Regions from separate parts of the Homo sapiens genome. Here region 1 is linked to region 2. A link means that fine-mapping ties the variant in region 2 to the plasma level of a protein whose gene starts in the linked region. Region 2 holds a variant in brackets. A gene starts in the other region. All regions are shown on one strand. Distances are from middle to middle.

Region 1 (3,008 bases), 10 Mb before region 2:
GATTCCTCTTACTTTACTTGGATGCCAGCCACAACATTCCTGGGATCCTTTTCCATTTAAATAAGTTAGGGCTTGGAGATGGGGAGTGGGAGGAGCATGGGGAAGCCAAGGCCCAGAGAAGGTAAGCAACCGTCCTAAGATAACACAGCACTCTTGAGATGACAGCTCAGGTATGCAGTCTGCCGGCCCAAGCCCCATGGAACTGTGGGAAGGAACGCAAGTGATTCTCCTATTGGACAGGGGCAAGTGCATGGAAAAGGATGATGGTGAGGCTGAAAGCAGGAAAAGATTTGACCCATCTCCCAGGTATGAGCAGCCATCTCGGGGCACAGGATCCTAGAATCCTCAGCAAAGGCAGAAAAATGGCTAAGATGACCCTCACCAACCCATATGTGCCTTATCAGCCCAAGAGTGAGTCAGCAGGTGCGGCCAGCACCTTCCGTGTCTGGAAAAGAGACAGGATTGGGAGAAAATGTGGGAGGTTGCCCTTTCCCTGGGCCAAATTAGAATTCTAACCAAGGAGCTTCTTCAGTCTTGCTGGAGAGTAAAGTTCCCAGAGGGGCAGGGAAGAGTCCCAGATTCTACAGAGCTTCCCCTGGAAATGTCAGTGCATCCATCAGCTTTGCTCTTGAGCCTTGCTGAGTCTGAGGTGGACAAAGTGACCCACCCTCCTGGCCATCTTAGTGCCCACCTTGGATCGGGGGAAAAGGGGGTGGCACGCCGAGGCAGAAGTCCCAGAAGTCAGGGCAGCAGTCGGAGACCGTGCGGTTGCAGAAGAGGTCACAGTAACAGATGGCGCCCAGGTAGGGCAGGGCACAGTCGTCGGCACGGCCGCGGCAGCACAGGTCCTGCTCCTGGCAGTACCGGCCTCCCGCGTCCCGGATGCCCCGCAGGTGCAGACCCGGTGCTAGCTCCCGGCGCCCACGACCCTGCTGGGCACCCAGAGCCAAGTGGCCAGCCAGCGGCAGCAACAGCAGTAGCCCCAGTGGACATCGCCACATGGTGGCTCCTGGGCCCTGGGGGGCAGAGATGGTGGGCAGCAGAGACTCCCTGGAACACCAGGGATGAGTCTCCCAGTTTCCTGGAGCTGTGAGTTCAAGAGGGCCCAGCAGGGAGGGAGATCCCGATTCCTGAGTCCCCAGGCAGGACACGGGCAGAGGAGCCCCAGTGTGTGGGCCCTGGCTATAGGGGGATGGGGACTGGGCAGAAACGGAGCCCCTCCCTGACCTAGGCAGGGACCTTCAAGGACAAGGAAATGAGGGTGGTGGCATTCTTGGTGCTCCCACCCAACACTCATCCTGTGGACCCAAGGTCTTCTCTCCTGTCCTAGGTCTCTCTGCCCTCCAGCAGCCTCCATCCCTGACCTGGGTCCTTGACTTTGTGCTTTCCTGTCTCCCCCGGTCTTTTGGGTACACCTCTCTTCTGTTCCTGTGTCCCTCTGTCCCCCTCCACTGTCCCTCTCTCTGCCATCTGTCTTGGTTCCTCTACCTGCCCCCTCCCCCTGTTTCTTCTCTGTCTACACCTTCCGCCCTCTGAGCAGGGGAGCGTCCCTACCTGGTGAAGGTGTGGGCTGGGGCCCAGGCTGGCCCGCGCGCCTCCGCCTCCTGGCTCTGCGACCGCCGGACGCTCAAAGTCAAGAGAGGAGCGCGGGGCGGGGCGCTTTTTGTACCGCCCGCCCTCTGCACCGCCCCAGCAGTGGCGGAAGGGAGGGGCGCCTGGCTTGTACCTGGAGTAACTACCCCACAACTCATGGGCTTGCAGGGTGGAGAAACGACAAGCACACGATTGTCCTGGCTGGGTCTCCTGTGGCGGAAGCCGTTCCCTTAGGGGAACCCCAAGCAGGAAGGATTGCGGTTTCACACTGGGAAGGACTTCACAGTGGGCATCCCTGTGGAGCTGAGGGGCTCTGGTGGAGAAGGGGGGATATGGGCAGCCGAGCTCTGGGTTATGGACACAAGTTTGGGAAATGATGGGGAGGGCATGTGAGGCAAAATTCTGTAAGCCTCTCCTGACCCCTCGGTAATAAAAATAGCCATGCACACCCCTCTCCACTGTGCCCCCTAGGCTTGGGTGCCGCCCCCCTAGCCACCCCAGCTCCTAGGAATGATTGGAATTCCAGGAGTATGATCCTTAGGTGCCCTGGGCGGCTCATCCCTGGGAGGTGGGCAGGGTGTGGGGGTGGCCTCTGCACCCTTTGATCCCTTGTTGAGTCTGCCTTCCCTTGCCTGCTTGGGCCCCTAGACGAGCACTGCCCTCTCTAGCAAACCCAAGGGCATCCTGCTTGGCACCTGTCCCCCTCCAAGGGTCCAAAGGCAAGGGCCCTACCAGCTGGCACCCCCTGCAGAGGCCCTCCTTCCTGCCGCAGGCATAAACCTTTCTTTGCCCAGGCTGGCCTGGGACCCAAACAATGGGGCTTCTGTCCCGCCAGGTCTGCCGTCACCTTTTACCTCCCTATTGTGCAACGCCCTCTCTTCAACAGGTTGGGCCCAGGCCAGAGGTCTCTACCAGCAAAGAGGATAAAAGAGACTACACCTGGACAAACCCTCCCAGGCCCAGGCCTGAGCCTCACATGTGGCCCCGGGGAAGGCATCAGGGACTCCCTTTGCCCTCCCACTGACCTCCCTGCAAACCTCCCCCAAACCAAGGGGCATCCTCAGCTGGCCAGACCCTGGGGGAAGGGAGAGAGCCGAGGATCACCGGCACCTGTGGCTGGGTTACCCCTGCCATGGACCACTGGGTGGTGAGTCACCAAGGGGGTCCTGCCCTGGTGGTGGGGGTGGAGGGATAATATCCGGGGGCCCCAGCACTGGCACTAACACACCCAGGAGCTGCCCATCTGCTCCCTGCAGGGACCTGGGAGGACAAAGCCTAGGTGGGAAACTGAGGCTCAGAAGAATGCACTTGCCTGAGGTCGTGCAGCCAGAACACAGGCTCCCTGCCTGCCACCAGCCCACTCCTTTACCCCTAGTCACCCTTAGTCACCCACTACAGGTCTCAACGTGCTCCTG
Region 2 (2,069 bases):
CCACAGGACTACCTAGCTGCCTGCTTCCTGCCATCATTCCCTGCACCCTGGCAGCACTGGGGCAGGACCTTAGCTCTCCAAAGTACAGAGAAGTGTCCGGCGGAAGATTGGGGCTCAGGTGGGGTCAGCGGAGGCCTCTCTCCGGGCCTGGGGCTGCAGGAGCCAGCAAGGGGTTGGGGAGCAGGGGAGTCCTGGAGAAGGGAGAGGGAGGGGCCTTCTTGAAGGAGTGGGGGGTCTGGGGATAGGGTAGTGAAAGTGAGGGGGAAGGGGACTGGGGAAGGGAAGGGTGGGGCCAAGACCAGCGCTGACTTCTCTGCCACCTGCCCTGCGGCCACCATCACAGGGTTGCCCTACATCCGGATGTTTAGCAGAGACCCCAAAACTATTTGCCTGTCTCCCTTCCCCACCAGCCTGAGAGCACCTTGAAGGCACAGAAGGCACCATAGTCCCCACTACTCCCCCAGAAGTGAGCCTGGGGCCTGACCCAGGGTCTGGAGGTTATTACATAACACCACTATCACCACCACCAATAGCAATAGCTACCCGGCAGTGCACACTGCCTTGAACAACCTAGGTCAGTACAGGCACACCTCATTTTAGTGTACTCCACAGACACTGTGTTTGTTACAAATTGAAGATCTGTGGCAACCCTGTGTCAAGCAAGTCTATCAGCATCATTTTTTCCAAAAACATGAGCTCACTTCATTAGCGTTTTTTAGCAATAGCATATTTTTAAATTAAGGTATATACATTTTTTTAGACATAATGCTATCCCACACTTAAAAGACTACTGTAGGGTGCAAACATAACTTTTATATGCACTGGGAAACCAAAAAATGTGTGACTTGCTTCATTGCAATATTTGCTTTATTACAGTGGCCTGGAACCAAACCCGAAGTATAGCTGAGGTATGCCTATAGTCTAATTAACTTCACGAACTGCCTCGGGAAAGAATGAATGAACTGGAACTTCATGCAAAAGTGTATACAGGCCAGGCACGGTGGCTCATGCCTGTAATCCTAGCACTTTGGGAGGCCAAGGTGGGCAGATCACCTGGGGTCAGGAGTTCGAGACCAGCCTGGCCAACAGGGTGAAACCTTGTCTCTACTAAAAATAAAAAAATTAGCTGGGCATGGTGGCGCATGCCTGTAATCCCAGCTACTTGGGAGGCTGAGGCAGAAGAATCACTTGAACTCGGGAGGCAGAGGTTGCAGTGAGCTGATGTCATGCTACTGTACTCCAGCCTGGAAGACAGAGTAAGACTGTCTCAAAAAAAAAAAAAAAAAAAAGGCATATATAGGC[C/T]GTGCATGGTGGCTCACGCCTGTAATCCCAAGACTGGGAGGCCAAGGCTGTAGGATCGCTTAAGCCCAAGAATTAGAGACCTTGGGGGGGTCTCTAATTATCCATATGTGGTGGTACACACCTGTAGTCCCAGCTACTCGGGAGGCTAACGTGGGAGGATGGCTTGAGCCCAGGAGTTGGAGGCTGCAGTGAGCTATGACTGCACCACTGCACTGCAGCCTGGGCAACAGAGCAAGACCCTCTCTCTAAACACACACCCGCAAGCAGGTACAGTGATGCTATGGTGTCAGAAGTCAGGGCAGTGGCTGCTCCAGGTGGGGAGTGGGCTTGGGCATGGAGGGGGCTCAGGGGGTCAGGGGACCTCTGGCTGCTGTCATGTTCAGATGCTCGACCTGGATACTGGATATACAGACCTGAACTGGGCTTGGGGATGGGGCTCACCTTGGAGAGGGCCACGAAGGGGAACTTGTCCATCTCCAGCCTGGTCTCCTCCCCAGGGTTGTGGTGGAGCTGACCCTTGAGGATGCGGGCAGCCGTCACTGTGGAGACACCCATCCCTGCAGTGGGGAGTGGGGGCCTCAGTCTCTCGTGCTCCTGCCTCTCCAATCAGCCTGCTTGGGTACCCAGAAGCTCTCTAGTTCGGTACCAAGGCAGGCTCGGGCAGTTGGCACTGGGCATGGCTCTGTAAATGTCAGTGAGCAGCCCCTCTCTCCCTTCACCCCCAGATCCTCAGGGGGCTGTCTGGCAGAGCAGGCCTCTTGAATCCA

Which allele goes with the higher level. Alleles are on the strand shown, and positions count from the first base shown. The strength of an association depends on the size of the effect and on how common the allele is.
In carriers of allele T in region 2, the plasma level of the protein whose gene starts at base 1,635 in region 1 tends to be higher than with C alone (moderate association).

What was found. PIP is the chance, under the fine-mapping model, that this variant and not a neighbour inherited with it causes the effect. The UK Biobank Pharma Proteomics Project read protein levels with antibody pairs (Olink). The fine-mapping took linkage between variants from a reference panel, not from the people measured, so its PIPs are less certain.
Region 1: it holds the start of TINAGL1, and the variant in region 2 is fine-mapped to the plasma level of the TINAGL1 protein (UK Biobank, PIP above 0.99).

What each region holds. Positions count from the first base shown.
Region 1 is chr1:31,575,142-31,578,149 of GRCh38, reverse strand. It overlaps TINAGL1 (tubulointerstitial nephritis antigen like 1), which reads right to left and starts at 1,635. Exons shown (of 12, transcript NM_022164.3): 1 at 1,555-1,635; 2 at 692-1,016. The coding sequence starts at 1,001. It overlaps LOC105378626 (a long non-coding RNA gene), which reads left to right and starts at 253. Exons shown (of 6, transcript NR_188671.1): 1 at 253-306; 2 at 2,480-2,740. RefSeq lists an enhancer at 1,104-1,824.
Region 2 is chr1:21,560,887-21,562,955 of GRCh38, reverse strand. ALPL (alkaline phosphatase, biomineralization associated) reads right to left here. Exons shown (of 12, transcript NM_000478.6): 4 at 1,744-1,859. Among named protein-coding and RNA genes, the nearest start is that of LINC02596, 25 kb to the left of the region's middle. The variant C/T (reference allele first, on the strand shown) is at 1,303.